Regions from separate parts of the Homo sapiens genome. Here all the other regions are reported to be linked to region 3. Evidence: microRNA targets listed by miRTarBase, many of them from high-throughput screens and not tested one by one. Region 3 holds a microRNA gene; each other region holds the end of a gene's coding sequence.
Evidence for each region. The annotated mature microRNA hsa-miR-2116-5p reads GGUUCUUAGCAUAGGAGGUCU and lies in region 3 at 1,667-1,687, opposite strand. An mRNA with a match to its seed (bases 2 to 7 or 8) in the 3' UTR can be bound and repressed. Matches are read on the target gene's strand: a 7mer-m8 pairs with bases 2 to 8, a 7mer-A1 pairs with bases 2 to 7 and ends in A, and an 8mer does both.

Region 1: miRTarBase lists TMEM117 as a target of hsa-miR-2116-5p. Seed matches in the 3' UTR shown: 7mer-m8 at 2,313-2,319.
Region 2: the mRNA of GDNF is a reported target of hsa-miR-2116-5p. The part of its 3' UTR that is shown has no 7-base or 8-base seed match.
Region 4: the mRNA of C1orf52 is a reported target of hsa-miR-2116-5p. Seed matches in the 3' UTR shown: 8mer at 1,640-1,647.
Region 5: the mRNA of RPN2 is a reported target of hsa-miR-2116-5p. Seed matches in the 3' UTR shown: 7mer-A1 at 752-758.

The regions. Positions count from the first base shown.
Region 1 is chr12:44,387,913-44,392,033 of GRCh38, reverse strand. TMEM117 (transmembrane protein 117) reads right to left here. Exons shown (of 8, transcript NM_032256.3): 8 at 2,276-4,008. The coding sequence ends at 3,362. Among named protein-coding and RNA genes, the nearest start is that of NELL2, 490 kb to the left of the region's middle.
Region 2 is chr5:37,811,843-37,815,958 of GRCh38, forward strand. It overlaps GDNF (glial cell derived neurotrophic factor), which reads right to left. Exons shown (of 3, transcript NM_000514.4): 3 at 835-4,116. The coding sequence ends at 3,809. Among named protein-coding and RNA genes, the nearest start is that of GDNF-AS1, 26 kb to the right of the region's middle.
Region 3 is chr15:59,169,563-59,173,683 of GRCh38, forward strand. It overlaps MIR2116 (microRNA 2116), which reads right to left and starts at 1,700; the gene lies at 1,621-1,700. MYO1E (myosin IE) reads right to left here. Exons shown (of 28, transcript NM_004998.4): 22 at 2,335-2,480.
Region 4 is chr1:85,248,881-85,253,001 of GRCh38, reverse strand. It overlaps C1orf52 (chromosome 1 open reading frame 52), which reads left to right. Exons shown (of 3, transcript NM_198077.4): 3 at 300-3,049. The coding sequence ends at 373. Among named protein-coding and RNA genes, the nearest start is that of C1orf52, 8.7 kb to the left of the region's middle.
Region 5 is chr20:37,240,616-37,244,734 of GRCh38, forward strand. RPN2 (ribophorin II) reads left to right here. Exons shown (of 17, transcript NM_002951.5): 17 at 688-1,004. The coding sequence ends at 700. Among named protein-coding and RNA genes, the nearest start is that of GHRH, 19 kb to the right of the region's middle.

The DNA.
Region 1 (4,121 bases), not on the chromosome of region 3:
TAAATGAGGAAAGTGCCAGTTTATCTGCTGCAGAATTAATTGAGTTGCTCTTGCTGTCTCAAGGGTACGGGCTGGCTAATAGGTCAGAGTTGGGTTCTGAGGGACAAAGCTCGAAGAAATCAGGCCAGATAGAGTAGTGAGCCAAGTCAGTCTCAGAGGGAAAAACCAATATAAGCATAATACCCTACTTGTAGCTGCCTAAGCATGAGTTGAAATTTAAAATAAGGGTTAGTTCAGAGTGAAGGCAGATGAGAAACAATGGCAGGGTACTGAGGTCTTAGCTGAATGTCAGATAATCCAGTTGGCCTCCTGAATTATCAGTTATAGAGACATTTAGGATTTATTAGCATTGTCTTTCTCATATTTCATATTGGGCTGTGTTGGTGACCCATGGGGAAGCCAAATAATGTGATAAAATTGCTTATGGAGCCCAGTGGTGAGCTACCATGTATTGACTCCCTCCTTCAAATCTGAATGCCTGTGTTGGACTTCTTTCCACTGTACTGTCAGCCAGTGGTGCAGTGTTTTTGGACATTACTTGTGTGAAATCTGATACTACAAAAATAAAAAAAATTTGTACCTGGTTGACTCTTAGGGCAGATGGAGAAGAAATAATTCTTAACATTTTAAACAGAATTTGCTGGTGATCTCAGCTATGCTAAAAGATAAGGTAACATAAGTAGCTACCATGGGGAGAAAATAGGGTAACTAATTATGATTATACAATACAAATAGACATGTGGTGATGAGATTTATGTCTAAGTGTATATTATCAGGCACAAATTCATAGTGTTTATTTAATTTTCCATTTCAACTACTAATGAAGTACTTTATAAATGTAGGATACTAAAATTATGTCAAATTAGTTCAAATTCTGCACTATGTGGAAGAAAGTACTGTAATTACTGAACAGTAGAAATATAATTGTTTATAGTACTTAAGCATCACTGCAATTAAGACATCACATTTGTTAAGCTTTCTTTAGAATCTGTGCTTAGTAATTTTTTAAATCCTTTTTTTTAACCTCAATTTCTGAGATTGCTACACATCTCTTTTTAAAATGTCCTTAATAGTTTAAAAGTTTTGGTATTCAAAAATCTCTGTAGAGTCTCAGTCTATTGGTATGACTCAGGATTCAAGACTGAATGTGAATGGATTTAATTTTTAGTTTATTTCATTTTAGTATCTTTACTTGGTATAAATGCAATACCCAAAAGAGGCAGCAAAAGAAGAAAGTAGATCCATATGTAGGTAAGAAAAGGTCACTATCAGTATATACAATTCAACAGTTGGAAGCCTTAGAAGGCTGAAGTCTTGTTTGACTATTAAAATGTCCTTGGAAATTGTTCCATTTGTTACTAAATTTATGAAAATTTAAATATATATTTTCATTTTTTTAATAGTTTTTCTAGCTAATCCCTAGAAACACATAAACATGTTGTTCTAAGTTTGTTATTTTTTTTCTGTCTTACTTCTGCTAATTAGATTTTCTCATTAAAACATTTTCCATTAATACCCATGTAAAAATTCTCAAATAATATTTTTATAAGTCATGCATATTGATAATAAACGTCTACTTTCTAAATCAACTTCTTTCGTCATTCTATAAGACAATGACTTTCAGAATAAATAAAAATGTGGTACTAGGTGTTATTATTTACATGTCCCAGAGCTAAAAGTTGAATGTTCTAGGCTGCCAAAATTTAGTAATAGCTAGTGTTGCCACCTATCAGACATACATGGTAAGTTCCTTTAGATAGTATGGGCAATGGGTTACTATAGTGAGCTTGATCTCTGCATTTGTGTGTGTGTGTGTGTGTGTGTGTGTGTGTGTCAGATATGTTTATGATTCTAAGTAGCACCATGCATGGCTATTAAAGGTAAAAGTAACAGCAGGGGCATGGTTCCAAATGCTTAGTAAAGATGTTTATTAAAGCTGGCTCTCAAGTGACAGATAAATGCATAGTTCTATTATGCATGCTAAATTCAGTATGCTGCAAGCTTAAAAGTAGATAGATCAAAACAAGAGAGATTTAAAAAATCATAAAGAAAAAATGCAGCTATGTCAGTGTGTGACAGGAAAATAATTTTTCCTTAAAAGTGATCTCCCTCACCCCCTCAAGAAACGTAACCACAATTTATGGAACAAAATTGAAAGCAAGTTGGCAGTGTGCCTTCTCTTAACTTGCCTGGCATCAAGCTATAAAAACCCCATGTAAATGGACTTTTCTTAAGCCAAGATACAATTAAACAAAAAACTACATCACATAATCACTGCTGTATAATTCTTATTTATTAATGTGCAATATTTAGTTCTTAAAAAACAAAAACAAAAAACACATACGCAAAACAAGACATTAAACAAATTCTTTCATGCACGGCTTCTCTACCTGACAAGGTTCCGCTGCATGATTTTTTGAGGAGTTCCCTTGCTCAGGGTTGGCATATGTTTTTCAATTTTCACTATCCAGAGCCATATTTGCAGAAAGATATACGAATATTGTAAATGGTGGGATGTGCTGCTCTCATATGATGAAAACTTCAGTTCCTTGGTTGTCTGGGACTTTGTGTAAATGCCAATAAATTTGAGAGTTCGCCCAACTGTGTCTCTTAACCTTTGTTCCCAAAGGTGAAGGGCAGGATTTTTAATCAAGTAGCAATTTATCTTTAATTAGGAAAACATAATTAGGTATCATCACCTCATTTCAATTACTGGTGGGAGAAAGTCACATTTCACGAGTAGTGACCCATGTTGGGTTATGGATCTCCTATTACTGAATTTTGCATCTGTATTTATATTTGGCAGACAGCCAATAAAAATTAAAAGGTGATCACCATGTTTCTCTGCAGTCCAGTTGTCAAAGTCACCAACTCTGCTGCTGAATAAGAAACCAAGAGATACTTCCTGAGTCACATTTAGCTATTTCTGTTTTCTGCTCAGACATCAAGTGTAGATCAAAATAGTTGTATACAAAACGCCCATGTGAAATAGGTTAGGTAACTGTTCCACACTTCATTTCTGGTACAGTTAAAAACAGTTTAATGTCTCAAGGCACCACTATGGTTGAACATCAGATACATGGGTCATCAGCTAATCTTCCACTATGCTGTAAAGTCAGTAATAGCTTGTGCAATTGTGAAAAGCAATCTCTAGAGGACTGTTGAGTATACAGTAGGCACGTGTATTATAATACAAATAGAAAACAATGAATCCTAGAAAAAGCATGTTGAGCACCGTTGTGGCATTGTTCATATTTTTACCTAACACTACGTAAACCTTACATATACAAAAGGAAAGACTAAATTTTTAAAGTTACACTCAAGGTTGCTTTTTGTGTTATCTCCAAGTCTATCTCCGAGTCTAGTTCGTAGGTGTACTTTTAGAAGTCGTTGGGTCTTGATCAGCTTCTGTTGCACTAGTAGATTCGTTCAACTGTGAGCTCAAGTTTTCCGAGGTTAGGTGGGAAGACTTGTAGACGATCTCATTGAAGTCAGACCTGATGCAAACCAAAGAAGGGTCATTCAAGGGGTCTTCTACTGAAGCCTGGGTGTTTTCTCGAGTGATTCCCATGTCTTTGCTATGTTCTGATGGAGATTTTCTTTTCATGCGAGTGTAAGTTTTGTCTTGATTCTCCATGCGTGGCTCATTTTTCAAAAATCGTCCAAAGAACCAAATAAAGAATCCAAACCACACAAAGGCTATCAGGCTTGGAACAAAGGCCAGACACTTGACATCAAGACTGGCTCCTATGAACCTGCTGTGTAAGAACATGTCTCCCTCAACATATGTTTTATTAGTCCGAGGGTTAGTGTGATTGGACCTCCATTCCCAGGATAGCTTGGTTCTGTTCAAATCTTTTAAACTTTCTGAGTCTTTCACTGTATATATCTTCTGCCCCGGGCCGATATATTGCCCATATTCATGAGGTTTATAAAATATTTGGTTCTTCCACATATTAAGATCCAAAATCAAGACGAGGAAGATAATTCCATAGTTAAACCATTTGCCTGCATTAAAAAAGAAATACTGCATTAATCAAAGGGCCATAAAATTGCAATAAGGTTTTCTACAATAAAATGAGGATAATGGTATAATAACATCAATTGTTAATGTTTCAGAC
Region 2 (4,116 bases), not on the chromosome of region 3:
GAGTTTTACCATCTTATGTTCCCGCTCCAAGTCACTGACTTTGGACTGGAATTTTGGCTTGGAGAAAACGCAGCTGGCCTCAGCACCACCCTGGAGCCTCTTCCAGCCAGTCCTGGCAGAAGGACTCTGAATGCCTGAACCCACAGGTTGGTACCCGTGACTCCACCAAGTCTCCACGCAGGGACGGCGTGCATCGGGAAGAGGGGGCATTTCAGGCAAAGGCTAGTGCAGCACAAATGCCATCCATGGGGCAGCCTAGGCTGGGGCCATGCAGAAGAGCCATAGAGCACCATGCAAGGCCGCCTTTTGATAGTCACAAGGCAGTCTGTGACGTGACTCAGTTTCATACAAGCTGCTTCTTCTGCCTGGGACGCTCCTGATCTGTTGGCACTGTTTCTTAACTTCGGTCTTAAAGTCATTTCTAATTAAAGCAAGCTCCCCTGTTAGTGTCTATATTATAGGATCCTGTTTGTATTCTTTTAGCGTTTCTCAACACAGGGATCACTACATATTTTACTTTTTTGAATGTTGTCTGTCTCCCCGCAAATAAAATAACTCCAGGAGGACAGCGGTTTTTGCTTTGGTCACCATTAGAGCCCTGGTGCCAGGAACAGTGCCTGGCACAGTGTAGGCACACCATAAGGGTTTGTTGAATGAATAAGAACAATTTTGCAAGTTTTGTCCCTCCTGAGTGGGTGATTGGTTGCTGGGAGTTGATAGGCAAGGCCACTGACCATCCAGTGGGCTGTGTGGTAAGAAGGGGGTGATTCCTAAGAAATACTTGTGGATGGCTGCCTGGCCCAGTGCATGCAAGGAAGTACAGAAGTACAGAGAGCAATAGAAATGAGTTTTTATTTGTAAAAAGTTACAAAATGATATTGTACAAAAATAAAGTCTGTAGAGAACTTTGGTTTTATAACACAAACGACCAAGACAGATCAGAGAAGTCAGAACTTCCAAACAAGTGCACTCCTTACGGTATCAGATGGTGATCGCAATGATAAAGAAAAATCACAAACTTTACCCTTTTGTGGATTTGGTGGAGCAACTTGCTTCCATTAAAACCTGCTTGTGGTGTGTAGGTGATGCCGGGAACGAGCTATTGACACCCCTTGGATCCTACAGCTTTTTTGGGCAGGGACTCTCCATGGGGAGTTGTTGGGGGGGGTCACTGAGGTTGAAGCCTGGGAACAGTGGCCATCGCACTGCCAAGGTTCTCTGAATGGGACAGATGCCCCTGGGGCCACATCCAAATTGTGCTCCACGAATGACTGGATGGCTGGGGTTTGTCACTGTTTCGAGCAGTCTGAATTCTCAGCAAGATCCCAAGACAGTGTGAGAGGGAAGGCCTTTCCTCCATTTCCCAGGCGAGCAAGGGGAGCAGAAAGGACAGAGAAGGGCAGAACCATGAAGAATTTGGGTATTTTGGGGGAAGGGGATCAGATGTCTGGTAACTGCTGCTTCTTGTTACTATGATTATTTGATGGAGGCCAGTATTTCATTTAATTGCTAAATCTGTCATAGTTTTATACTAGTAGCCACTAAGGTAGGTAGTAATAGATTATCTCCTTAATGAAAATCCCTTTTATGAAATGCGTAACAAGCTGTAATACAGGGCCTAGTGTGTCATACATGTGTTGGCTGCCCGATAAATTCACAATCTAGGGCATGGAGGAGGTGGCTGTTCCCGCCCCTATGCTTCCTCCTGCTCCAACCTCTTTTTTTTTTTTTTTTTTTTTTTGAGACAGGGTACCGCACTGTCACTTAGGCTGGAGTGCAGTGGCATGATCACAGCTCACTGCAGCCTCGACCTTCTGGACTCAAGTGATCCTCCTTCAGCCTCTTGAGTAGCTGGGACCACAGGTGTGCACCATCATGCCTGCCTAATTTTTAAAGTTTCTGTAGAGACAGGGTCTCCCTATGTTGCCCAAGCTGGTCTCAAACTCCTGGGTTCAAGAGATCCTCCCACCTTGGCTTTCCAAAGTGTTGGGATTATGGGTGTGAGCCGCTGCACTGGCCCCGACCACCTTCATTTAAAGGCAGCACGCTCCTAAGTATGAGGCTCCATGTGTGTGGCTGTGGCTGGTCCCAATATGGCTTCCTCAGCACCCTTCTCAGCCATCTGCTCCCCAGGGAGCTGTCAGGTGTTTGGGTATATAGGAGCAGCAGCTGTTGACCCCCGGTGACAGCCCAGGGGTTGTACAGGACCTGGTAGACCCTACCTCTGGAAGGCCCCTGTGTCTCCCGGGCTGCACTGGGCAGCCAGCATATTCTCGGGAGGGCAGTGGGTGGGCAGGGATGGAGGGAGTCGGTAGAACGGCAGCTACCTGACAGCATTGTCGACATTACTTTTAGGTCAGCATTAAATCCAGGACTACCTACTAAAAGGAACTGAACCTTTTCTACATATGGTTATGCATAGTACAGATAGGTATACGTGGAGGGGACTAAGAGCTTAAAGACAACAGGAAGTGGAGCCCACGACATTTCTGTTCAGCAATGGAGCAAGGAAGAAATAAAGTCAAGTGCCAGTGGTCTCTGCACGCTGCTCCAGGAAAGGGGGCTTGCCTGAGATGCTCCACAAATAAAAATTGGGAAAAATGCTGAAATCTGGGGAAAATTAATGACAAATTTTCTTAAAAAGGTAAAGTAAGTGATTTTTGCCTGGCAAAAAACTTTTTAATACTTTGAAAAGCATGGACCCTTGTTCCCAATTCAAATTTCCTTTTGTCACCTTTCTTTGCATTTTGCGAGCACATATACTTTGGCACCTTTGAAAAGAAACTTTAATAAATAAGGGAAAAAAGAGAAATTCATTAGTGAACGGTAATAAATAACAATAACTTAAATTTCAATAAATATCTTCTCTATATTTCTGTATCTGAAACAGATGCATTGCATCGAGTAGCTTCTCTGGTCACTGGTGACCACGCATCAACGGAGCTGGTTATGTAACATCTGTCTCTCTGTAAACCAACAGGCCTGAGGGGCTCTCCCTGCCCGGGGGCAGTTCGGGGCCTTCCCCGATTCTCTCCTACAAGAATGCTGGCGAAAACCACAACTCGTTTCCTGTTTCCAAGGACATAAAGGAAATACCTTCAGGTTTGTGTTTAATCATGAGCACAGCCTTTTTGGTTCCTAGCCAACTTCTTCCCACCCCACACACCGTGATGGAAATCAATCACCAACCGTTGGCAAAAATGCTGGTTGTAGTAAACCTCGGGCCTCAACTTTCAAATGCAAAGGTGATTATCTCTTGTATCTTTGCTTTTTTTTTCCCCTCTCCTTTCCAGGGTATGTCTCCACTGAGTGACAGAAAAATAAACCTCTTACTTTCAGCAGTAAAACGTAATAACAAGGAACAACACCAGGATCTCTGTTTCCCTGGTGTCTTCGGACACATGAAAACAAATCACAGGAGATACACTGGTTTGGTTCAAGTGCATCCACCGCAACCGCGCCGGTAATCAGTGATGGTGGACTGTATCAGCTGAAATGGTGGCAATAGCCAACCAGGAACATCAGCCCTGAGCTTCTAGTGACATCGGCTGCCATCCTGGAGAATCCAGAGGGCTGTTTTCTCTCTCTCCTGTCCAGTTGTCTGTAGCTGGATCTCCCTCTACCAGGCTCCCATGATGGCTGCCTTCCTCCTCCTCCTCCTCCTCCTCCTCCTCCTCCTCTTCTTCTTCCTCCTCCTCCGCCTCCTTGGTCCTCATCTTCCATTCTGGGCAAACATTTCCTGGGAACCTTGGTCCCTTTCTTTGCACTGTAGCAGGAATGCAATACACAGCAGTCTCTGGAGCCGGAGTCAGATACATCCACACCTTTTAGCGGAATGCTTTCTTAGAATATGGTAAACCAGGTTATCATCTAAAAACGACAGGTCATCATCAAAGGCGATGGGTCTGCAACATGCCTGCCCTACTTTGTCACTCACCAGCCTTCTATTTCTGGATAAGTTTTTCAATATTTTGTCGTACGTTGTCTCAGCTGCATCGCAAGAGCCGCTGCAGTACCTAAAAATCAGTTCCTCCTTGGTTTCATAGCCCAGACCCAAGTCAGTGACATTTAAATGTATTGCAGTTAAGACACAACCCCGGTTTTTGCCCCTCTGGC
Region 3 (4,121 bases):
TTCTTTTTTTTTCCTTAGAGTCAGAAAAACTTTTAGGCTAAGTACCTCATTTTACTACAGCCTTTAAAAAGGAAAGACCGCAAGAAAGGAACCTTCCAGATAATGAATACTGAACAGGAAGAAGAAAAAGAAGCTGGTGCTCCCATGACAGATTATATCCCCAGAGGCTGTAAAAGAAGACAATAAACAAACAAAAAACAATAAAAGGAAGAAATTTGAGTGTGAACAGTCCCTACAGTCCCTGCTTGACAACCCCCTCAAGGACTTATCAATAAGATAGTAAGTGTCAAAGTGCTTGATACAAGTGTAGCTCAAGGCCAGGCACGGTGGCTCACGCCTCTAATCCCAGCACTTTGGGAGGCTGAGATGAGTGGATCACTTGAAGTCGGGAGTTCAAGACGAGCCTGGCCAACGTGGTGAAACCTTGTCTCTCACTAAAAATACAAACATTAGCCAGGGGTGGTGGCTCAGGCCTGTAATCCCAGCTACTCGGGAGCCTGAGGCAGGAGAACCACTTGGACCAGGGAGGCAGAAGTTGCAGTGAGCTGAGATCACGCCACTGCACTCCAGCCTGGGTGACAGAGCGAGACTCTGTCTAAAACAAAACAAAACAAAACAAAACAAAACAACCACACAAATGTAGCTCAATTAGGATAATTTATGGTCCCAGTCATGAGCACTCCACCAGGGGTCTGAGGGACTGAAGACATACCTGGGCAATAACAGAAAGAACAAGTCACTCTCGGCACAGCGACTACACACACCCTAGAGCTGTGGTTCCCTGACTTTCACCTGCTGTGCCTGCCAAGCACGCTGTGGCCAACCTGGCTTAGTCCAGGCATGGCAGGGCCCCATGCAATGACAAACAAAGCAGGAGCTTCCTGTTGGGTTTCCACGGCAGCCTCAGGGCCCAGCTAGCCAGGAAGAGTGTGGCCAGCAGGCACTGCCCCGCTCAGGTTGGGACCCAGCCAGTGAGCTGAATGTTTAGGAAGGCCTTCAGAAAATCAGTCAGCGCCTAGAGCTTTAAAAAAAAAACAAAAAAAACAATAGCCTTGAAACCTACCTGAGGTGGGGCTGCAAAATGGACACTGCGGACTCATCTGCTTAGCAACTTTACCACATCCTGAGTTGGCACGTTTTAAATACTTCACTGCACTGCACTGCCTGGTCCTTTATCCAGGGAAATTAGGAACAGATAGAATCAGAAACCACAGAGACACAGGCAAGAATGGATGCAACTAGAAATCTGTTTTGGATTATCAGACTGGAACTAGGATTTCCAGCTTGGTACATCAGACGCCTGAGCACATAAAACCCCTGCTTTTTCCTGAGCGCACCAGTTTTGCCTTCTGTGTGGAGTAAGAGTTTGACAGGCGTCCCAATTCCATGTTCATGTGAGAGCAGAACATCTTTAATGCAAAGGCCCAAAGCTTTTCCTGATTAAAGTAGTGTTAGCCTCAGAGGCCCAGGGACACGATTCTTGGAGGAAGCTATGGGGCTCAAGGAGGCCTTTCTTCCATTCTTAGTCTTCATGGATTGCGAGGATTTCCTGTGTCAGCGGAACTTAGTCTAGGAGTTCTTACCATGGGAGGACTTCGGGAGGACTTAGCATGGGAGGACTCCTAGTCTGGGAGTTCTTGGCATGGGAGGACTTCTTAGCATGGGAAGACCTCCTATGCTAAGAACCCCTAGCCTAGGTCCCACTGACGGAGGAGATGCTGACGGCCGGCAGAGGAGCCCTTCTGCCGAGAGGAAGCCAAGGTGCTGCCGGGAGGAGCAAGGGCCCTTCCTGAGGCCTTGTGGAAGCAAACACCACTCCCCACTGCCTGAGAATTGGAGCGAAGAGAGCATCTCACGATGACTCCAGGGCTACAGAGAATGGAGACCAACTTGCACTCCCTAAGGAAGTCCCAAAGAAACTTCCCTTTCAGGACCCTCTGCTCAGGGAAATGGGTGAGGCCTCCAACCTGGGTGAGGTGGACTGGGGGACAGGGCTCTGAATCCTTGGCTCTACTGCAACAAGAGAAATTATTCTCTGAGGTGTTCCATATACCGGGTTCATTTCTAACACGTTTCGGTTACAAGAGATCTGGGTCCCCCTTGATTAGAGGAGCTGTCCGGAGGCAACCTTTTCTTGGTACCTTCTTCCTGACATATCAAGACTTGCTGAGACTAGGGAGTCTTCCCTTTGGGACAAAGGGAAATTCCATTCTCTTGATCATGATTTTGACAGCTGGGAAGCCCAGCCCGGCCTTCCTCCTGGCTGTTTGGAACAGCGGACCGTGATGCTGAGGCGAGAAGGGGCAGTCCTGCCTCTGCACCTCCACTACTCACCTGAGGGACACAGACAAGATCCGTTCTATCTCGATTTTCCGCTTCAGGACTTCTTTCACCAGGCCCTTGTCTGGGCCCTGTTTGACTTTTTCTCGTCCGATTAAGTACAAGCACTTTGGGGTAAGGAGCAGGTCTCGCTTTACACCCTGTAAGGAGAGGAGCTTTAAGAAGCTGGACAGGCCAGGCATGGTGGCTCACACCTGTAATCCCAGTACTTTCGGAGGCCGAGGCGGGTGAATCACCTGAGGTCAGGAGTTCGAGACCAGCCTGACCAACATGGTGAAACCCCGTCTCTACTGAAAATACAAAAATTAGCTGGGTGTGGTGGTGGGCGCCTGCAATCCCAGCTACTTGGGAGGCTGAGGCAGGAGAATCGCTTTAACCTGGGAGGTGGAGGTTGCAGTGAGCCGAGATTGCGCCATTGCACTCCAGCCTGGGTGACAGAGCAAGACTCCGTCTCAAAAAAAGGTGGACAGACATGGTCAATGTGATGACAACAATTCACACAGTGGACTGCTGTTACCAGGACAGGGGGAAGCTGCCTTGGACAGTCAATCTTCACTACTGTTGAGAGGCCATTCCATTCATCACATGACCGGGCCCCATGACAGTGAAAGAGGGCATTGTTCATGATTATTAGGATGACATGTAAAAAATGATGACATTTGACTCTTTTTGACTTAAAAACTGGCAAACTCATATGGAGTCACTTCACATATCAGGACAGCAGGTGTAAAGGGAAAGTCACCAACACCTGTGGTGAACTTAGCAAGGATGCACTACAGCATGTTTCTAAACAGGGGGCAGTGTCTGCATATATTTTCTTGGGAGTTCATAAAATTTTCATTCTAAAATACTGATATATTGTCATTTGAATGATAATTCTCAATAATCTAATAGAAATCTACTTGGGAATTTGTGGGTAACCACTTTATAATGAGTACCGCTGCGAGAGCTAAGCACCCCTGTGTGCATCCAGGGCTGCCGTCACAGCAGCTGGTGCCATGCACAGGTTGCAAGGAATGGTTTGGTTTTAGCAAAACATGCTTCCGTTGTTTATTTCGTTAAATTTTTTTCTTGACCTCCCCGCCCCTGGCAAAAAGCCAAAAGCTCTTAACGGGTCCATGAGCTTCTGAAGCTTCAGATTTTTCTATTAGGACCAAGACTTTATCAAAAGGTATCTAAAGGAGGAGGTGAAAAATCAACTGTTCCTCCTGTGGCTGGAAAAGCCTTACTTATCAGCCACTCTGGGAAAATGGATGAGGATACTCTGCAATATTACTTGATACTCTGAATCCTTTGATTCAACGATTTCACTCCTATCAATTTCTTCTAAAAATATTAGGAGACAGATAGATACACAAAGATGTGTGAAAAGATGCTCACTGAAGTTACGATAGTAAAAAAGAAAAACTCACTAAAAATTGATTCATGAGAAACTGGTTAAAAATAATAAAGCATCTGTCAAATGGAATACTATGCAGCCATGTAAAATAACTTATATTGCTAACTGTATTACTATCGAAAATTCTCGCATTATTTAAAAGACAAACAAAAAACCACTTCAGGACATAAAACAGCATGTAATGTATATCTCATTTTTTGTAAAACTAAATACGCAAATGTATGTTTTCATAAAAACATTCTGAAAGATATGGATATACACAGAATGTTAACAGTGAATGTTTCTGGGCATAGGTGCCTGTTTATCTTTTGGTTTACTGTATTTTCTCTAAATTTTTCTACAACGAACACATTCTGATTTGGTAACAACAAAAGCAAAATAA
Region 4 (4,121 bases), not on the chromosome of region 3:
TTTCAAAAGTCTGATTTGGGGGAAGTAAAGTCACTTATTTTAAGCTACCTTAGTATAGCACCTAAAGAGTTACTTTGTGAATTTTGTATGGCTGCAATTGAAAAAAAAAATTGCTCACTTTCACTTGCATTTAAAAATCAGAGCTCTAAAAGTTAATTCTTGTTTTTTATTGGGAAACTCTGAGAGAAACATTAATTGATGAGGGTAATAATTTTGGTATAAAGCCAGTGAAATTTTAATGCTTAACATGTTGGGTTTTTTAAAATTACTGATTGAAACTCTTCCTTTTCTATTTAAAGATGATGAAAAAGATGAGCATACTTCTAAAAAGCGCAAAGTAGAGCCAGGAGAACCAGCAAAGAAGAAAAAGTAGAAACAAATGACCAGAATTTCTGTACTGCTAAACTTGTTGAAATGTTTCTTTGGACAGATTAAGTTGATATTGTGGGTTATTATGCCACATCTCCATGAAAATGCATACGTTAATGAACTAATAAGTATTGCCTCAAGAACTTTCCACTATAGAATTCTTTTTTTATTTAAAACATGTATGTATTTAAAACTCAACTGGTGACTTGTGATTGTGAAATTGATAACACTTGGATGCATTCTTGCTCTCACAGAATTGGTGACATGCTTTGAGAGTTTTGTCACATGTTGACATGCCAATGTTCTTATAAACCTTTTATAAAGGAATATATTTTTAAAGTAAATATATTGTAATGTACTGTGAACTTGTAGGGTGCTTTTCAACAGTCTTTGTACAGTGTAAATAGATCATGGAAATAAAATTACTTATTCAATATTACTATTACTGTATAACATTAACATTTGAATGTTTGTCTGTGACAAGTACCCTATTTGTCGTGTGACATTTTAAGTTGTAATAAGAAGTATTACCATTTAAAGAGTGCCTCCTGTGTTCCAGGTGCTTTGTGCATATATTTTCTCTGATCCTTAAACAACCTAGCGCAAGGTATTATTAGTATTCTCATTTTATAATAAAGAGTGCTTGAGTAGCTTGTCTGATGTTACACAGCTAGTGAGTGGTTCATTTGGAATTTAACTTGGGACACTTGAACCTCAAAATCATCACATTAAACCACCTGTCCACCAGTCAAAATTTAGTCATCTTTCAGGAATGACATCAATTGTCATCTCTTCCAGGTACTTTTTTCTGTTGTACCTGGAGATCCGTTAGTAGAGATCTTTTCCTCTCCTGATTGGATGACTGTACTTGTCATCTGTGCTTTATGGTTATTCATTAATTTCTTTATTAAATTGTAAGTTTACAGGACATTCAGTTAAATTTGAATTTCAGATAAATAATGTTTTAGTATATTTAATATTCAGGACATATACAAAAAATGTGTTTATCTGAAATTCAAATTTAACTGAACATCTTTTATCTGGTAACCCTACTTCTACATGTTTTCTCTACCCAGCTTCTATTTTAATGCTTTGCGTATAGTAATAATAAAATGAACAAGAAGTAGTTGGGAAGGTGTGATCGTTGAGTTCCAAAATGCAGTTATTTGTAGCATTTTGAACAATAAAAAGGTTACACTCTGCATCAATCTTTCCATGAATCTGAAGCCCTTAAGAGATAAGAATTACAGAACAGTGCACATTCAGTGTATAAGAACAAGACAGCCAAGCATGGTGGCTTATGCTTGTAATCCCAGCACTTTGGGAGGCCAAGGTGGGAGGATAGCTTGAGGCCAAGAGTTGGAGACCAGCCTAGACAACATGATAAGACCTCATCTTTACAAAAAATAATTTAGAAAGAAAAAGACATAATCTAAGTATTTTTTTTTAAATCTGTTTTTCCCCATTGTGGAAGATAAAATTTGAACAATTACGCGAGATTTGTTTACCTAGGCATGTGTATCAAGTAGATTAAAATTCATAAAAGTCATTAAGAGTGATTGCATCAGCCATGGTGCTTTGTGGAATGAAGGTCCATAACAGCATGATGGCTTCCAGTATATCATCGAGTTTAGAAAAACCAATTCTATAGCTGCCCATCCTCCAGGTTTGCAAATATATGAATCCCAAAATTGAAGTAATTGCTAAAGCAAGAATATGTTTTTTTAAGATTGTAGTCTTTGTAATGAATTTGGAAATCTGTGGTATCATATACTAAGGAGTGGCATCAAGTGACAAAGCAAGACCATAGTATGTACATGACACCAAACACAACCAAATCAAGTTATATTTGTGAAGTTGTGATTCCCAAGCTCTGGAGAAATCTAAAATTTGGATGCATGTGTTGGTGGAGCAAATATCTCAGAAGTTACTGAAATATTGCAAGGTTCTTAAGTTAGCATGAAAGCAAACTTTTTTCTCTCTTTCCTGGGAGATGTGCAGAGTATGTTGTATGAGGAGGAAGACAGGACTTAGGGAAGAGGCTAAATATTTTGGAGCAAGTCTGACTCAGCCATTTGTATCTCCTGGTTGGAAAACGGACTGTCATATCACTCTACATTCATCATCACATTAGAGAATAGATTATTTTCCCCTTTAGAGATGTCCTGGGAACGTGTTTGCACAAGTGTCCATGTGGGTACTGAGGTGAAGTTTGGTTGAGCTAGTGGAAACCTAGTGGGGAAAAGTCTTAAAAATCCATATACATAAGAAAAATCATCTGTCCAAGTATCTTTCATTTTAGAGAATCGAGTCACTTGATACTTCTGATTGTTTCCTGCACTTTAAGTTAAGCCTGGGCAACATGTTGAGATCCTGATCTGGTTTGGCTGTGTCCCCAACCAAATCTCACTTGAATTGTAATTCCCACAATTCCCACGTGTCATGGGTGGTGACTGAATTATGGGGGTGGGTCTTTCCGGTGCTGTTCTTATGATAGTGAATGAGTCTTACGAGATCTGATGGTTTTAAAAACCATCAGTGCAGGGAGTTGCCCTGCACAAGCTCTCTGCCTGCTGCCCTCCACATAAGATGTGTCTTGCTCCTCTTGCCTTCTGCCATGATTGTGAGGCTTCCTCAGCCATGTGGAACTGTAAGTCCAATTAAACCTGTTTCTTGCAAATTGCCCAGTCTCTGGTATGTCTTTATCAGCAGCATGAAAATGGACTAATACAGTTAATTTGTACCAGTAGAGTGGGGTACTGCTGAAAAGATACCCAAAAACGTGGAAGTGACTTTGGAACTGAGTACAAGGCAGAGCTTGGAATGTTTGGAGGGCTCAGAAGAAGACAGGAAAATATGGGACAGTTTGGAACTCCCTAGAGGCTTGTTGAATGGCTTTGACCAAAATGCTGATAATGATATGAACAATGAAATCCAGGCTGAGGTGGTCTCAGATGGAGATGAGGAACTTGTTGGGAACTAGAGCAAAGGTCACTCTTGATATGTTTTAGCAAAGAGACTAGTGGCATTTTGCCCCTGTCCTAGAGATTTGTGGAACTTTGAACTTGAGAGAGATAATTTAGGGTATTTGGTGGAAGAAATTTTTAAGCAGCAAAGCATTCAAGAGGTTACTTGGATGCCATTAAAGGCATTCAGTTTTATAAGGGAAGCAGAGCTTGAAAGTTCAGAAAATTTGCAGTCTGACAATGCCATAGAAAAGAAAATCCCATTTTCTGAGAAGAAATTTAACCTGGCTGCAGAAATTTGCTTAAGTAATGAAGAGCCAAATGTTAATCCCCAAGACAACGGGGAAAATGTCTCCAGGGCAGGTTAGAGGTCTTCACAGCAGCCCCTCCCATCACAGGCCCAGAGGCCTAGGAGGAAAAAGTGGTTTTGTGGGCTGGACCCAGGATTCCTGTGCTGTGTGCAGCCTAGGGACTTGGTGCCCTGTATCCCAGCCACTCCAGCCATGGCTGAAAGGAGCCAACGTAGAGCTCAGGCCATGGCTTCGGAGCATGCAAGCCCCAAGCCTTGGCAGCTTCCATGTGGTGTTGAGCCTGCAGGTACACAGAAGTCAAGAATTGGGCTTTGGGAACCTCTGCCTAGATTTCAGAAGATGTATGGAAACAACTGGATTCCCAGGCAGAAGTTTGTTGCAGGGATGGGGACCCTCATGGAGAACCTCTGCTAGGGCAGTGCAGAAGGGAAATGTGGGGTTGAAACCCCCAGAGTCCCTGCTGTGGCACCACCTA
Region 5 (4,119 bases), not on the chromosome of region 3:
CAGTCTGTCTAGATTGTCATTTTCATTCATTGTGCTTCCCCATCCCTCCTTAGAGTCTAGGGAAAGGCAGCGGAGGGGAAACAAAGAGTACAGGAGATAGGTTCTTATCCCCTTTAACACTTTCTGTGAGCTGAGTCCCATTTTTGAGAATCTTTCTGTGTTAGGTTAGATGCTGAGTGTGACTTGGCAAGAACACGGCCACACGGCAGGAATGTGCAGGTTTCTGTAATGAATGGTCAGGATGTCATGTTCTAAGCTACAGAAGGGCCAAGTGTTGGTTGGCAGAGCTGGAGTCTGGGAGATTGATGATGAGCATTATTTAAACTTTGCTCTTTGTTCATCTAATTGAAATTTACACTGTGTTTTTGGCCTTGCACTGTGAGAGGTGTGCCTGGAATTACCTCATCTCCTTATGTTGTCACATACCACTTTCTTAGTTATTATTGAGTTTGTTTTGTTATTTGTATTTAAGTTGTCATCAGCTTAATTATGAACTAGCTGTCTCACATTCTTTTGTAAAATGAGATGGGGCATACATAAATAGACTTGGGAGATAAATGATTATTCCCTTATAAATGGGATCTTAGAGCGGGAGAGTACCTTAGTCTCTCTGTTGTCACCAGTTAGGAACTGTAACTGTGAACTGAAACCTTCAGTAATTCTGTGTTTGTCTCCATTTTCTTTCAGAACAGCACATTAGTTCCAGAAGAAAGATGGAAATTCTGAAAACTGAATGTCAAGAAAAGGAGTCAAGAACAATTCACAGTATGAGAAGAAAAATGGAAAAAAAAAACTTTATTTAAAAAAGAAAAAAGTCCAGATTGTAGTTATACTTTTGCTTGTTTTTCAGTTTCCCCAACACACAGCAGATACCTGGTGAGCTCAGATAGTCTCTTTCTCTGACACTGTGTAAGAAGCTGTGAATATTCCTAACTTACCCAGATGTTGCTTTTGAAAAGTTGAAATGTGTAATTGTTTTGGAATAAAGAGGGTAACAATAGGAACAAAGGCCTGATTGAGAGCTTATTCTCATACTTTTGGGTGGTGGGGTCCTTGGGTATATGACATGAGGACTTAGTTGGAAATGCTGTTGATGCCAGCATATTTCTCCAGGCCTTTCTTGGTCCTTCTTGCCCCTTGCTCCTAACAGAACTGAGAACTGCCTGGAAAGGCCAGCTTCCTTTTTTCTTCTCCAGCAGTGAGCACCAGCTGTCTGCATAGGAGCCCTGTTGGTATCTGAAGGCCCCATTTGGACCTCTAGGGGTCCAAGGGGATAGGTTTTTATCCCCTTTAACATTTTCTGTGAGCTGAGTCCCATTTTTGAGAATCTTTCTGTGTTAGGTTAGATACTGAGTGTGACTTGGCAAGAACACAGCTAAACAACAGGAATGTGCAGGTGGACTGCAGCTAGGACCTCTGCTCAAGGCTCTTGTCTTGGGGCCAGGCATGGAGGCTCACGTCCGTAATCCCAGCACTTTGGAAGGCCGAGGCAGGGGGATCACTTGAAGTCAGGAGTTTTGAGACCAGCCTGGCCAACATGGTGAAACCCTGTCTCTACTAAAAAACCAAAATTAGCCAAGGGGTGGGCATGGTGGTGCATGCCTGTAATCCCAGCTACTTGGGAGGCTGAGGCAGGAGAACAGCTTGAACTTGGGAGGCGGAGGTTGCGGTGAGCCATTGCACTCCAGCCTGGGCCACAGAGCCAGACTCCATCTCCAAAAAAAAAAAAAAAAAAAAAGACTTGCATGGAGATTTGTTGCAACATGAATTTTCAAGGGACACAAATTCAAACCATAGCACTGACCACTTGAGTGACTTTAGTCTAGAAGGCCACATCTCAAGAATGCCCCCTCTGAAGTTGTGCCCATTACATGAGGTTATATAATAGCACAGAGAGAAGTAATACTGCATAGCATGGTTGACTGCGTAGACTTTGGTTCCAGGCAAACCTAGTGTTGCCACTTACTAGGGTGAGGGACCTTGGGCAAGTAGTTTAACCTCCGTAAACCTCCTTTTGTGTTTCTGTAAAAGAGAGATGATAACTACCTACCTCATAGGATTAAAGGAGTTGAATGCTGACGCAGCTTAGCACTTGGCATCTTTCCTGATTGACCTACGGTTATGTGCCTTGGCCCATTGCCTCTAGTTCTAGAATGGCAAAAACTGCAATTACTTTTGCACCAACCTAATATTAATTGAAACATAATAAGTTTAGTTAACTTGTGAAATATGGTAATCCTCATAGTATTTATTGAATTGGGGGTCTGGAAGTTGTTTTATTTTAATCAGATTGCTTCCCAACTAGCTGGACCTTACTACAGTGAAGAAATTGGGATTTTGATTGGGAAAAAGGGAAAGAAGATTCTAGAACTCTATGCCGTTCTGAATGGGATCCTATAGGTAAGAGGATGATGTGGGCAGTTACAGGGATGCCTCTAAGATGGGAAGGAGGCTTCTCCTTCCCAGAGGTTGCAAACTTGTGATCTGTAGTGTTTTTTTAAAAATTGAGTAAGTTGCCAACATTTGAAGACAGATTTTATATAAAAATCTTGGTTTTGGATTCTGGATTCTCCTGAAAGAGAAAACTAGAGCTGTCCACGGCGGGCCTGATTCCTGAACGGCAGCAGTCAGCTGACACTGAATAGCAGCTCGTCCCTTTGGATGGAGCCTGCAAGCTCCAGCTTGTCAGCCCCTCCCCGCACAGGTGTCCACATACAGGACACTTGCGCCAGTCCACCTGGCGACTGTGCTTCTCTGATACCTGCCTGGCTCCCATAGGCATATACCTTTGGGATCCTCCACTTTTTAGTTTCTTATCCCACTCGGAGGGGAAGGGGTGATGGTGGTTTCCTGTTGCTCTTGGGCGGCTCCTAGTGTTCCTACTTAGGTGTGCTGGGACCTCAGCCGCTCAGACTGGAGAGGAAAGAGAGCCCCAGCAGCGTGTGGGATGAGAGCAGGGACACTTGCCACCTATCACCAGACCTGTGCGGGCCTGGAAGACAGACTGGGTGCGGGGCTGGTGGACAGTGGTGTGGAGCAGGGGTAGTAGGGCCTGAGGGTGGAAGTACAAAGGCTGCTGGGTGTCCTGGTCACTGGGAACAAAGGACAGCCAGTGGCTGGAAGGAAGGAAGTCGGGAAACAGCTTTTTGGAGAAACGGCTGGCACAGCTAAGTAAGGGGTTCCCGGGCTGGTTTGGGGCTGGCCTGCAGACTCAGATGGGAGCTGGAGAACAGAGCCCAGTAAACATTGCCATGTGCCAGGCTGTGTTCTGTGTCCAGAGCTACCACAGGGAGCAAGACAGATCCAGTCCCTTCCCTTGGTCCAGGTACAGCCCACGGGCACCCAGCTGAGGGAGAAAGGAAGCAGTGATCACACATGTGAGAAGGGCCTCAGAGGAAGCAGTTCTTACCTTGATGGCTTGGGAGGTCTCAGCTGAGACCTGAAGAATGAGAAGGCGCCTATGCCAAGCTGAGGAAGAGCACTCCGGCCAGAGAATCAGCCAGCATGGAGGCTCTGGGGCAAGAGCACGGCACATTCTGACTGGAAGCAGGCCAAGCAGCCAGGGTGTCACTGGCAGGAACGGCATCCTCGCTGGGATAGAAGCCAGAACAAACTTGGCTTTTAGGGGCTGTGGTAAAGGGGACTGATTTTTCTCTTAGGACCTTTTTTAAAACAAAACAAACAAAGAGATGGGGTCTTGCTATGTTGCCCAGGCTGACCTTGAACTCAAGGGATCCTCTTGCCTCAGCCTCCTGAGTAGCTGGGACTACAAGCATGCACCATCACGCCTGGCCAGCCTGAGTTTTATTTTGGGGTATAGCAGAGGCAGATGCTGTCTGTCTGACCCTGCCCACTGGGCAAAGCCTTTTTTTTTATTTTTTATTTTTTATTTTATTTGAGACAGGGTCTTGCTCTGTTGCTCAGGCCAGAATGCAGTGGTGCAATCACGACTCACTGCAGCCTCAACCTCCCAGGCTCAGGTGATCCCCCCACCTCAGCCTCTGGAGTAGCTGGGACTACAGGCGCGTGCCACCACACTGGGCTAATTTTTGTATTTTTGGTAGAGATGGGATTTTGCAATGTTGCCCAGGCTGGTCTCATACTCCTGAGCACAAGCAA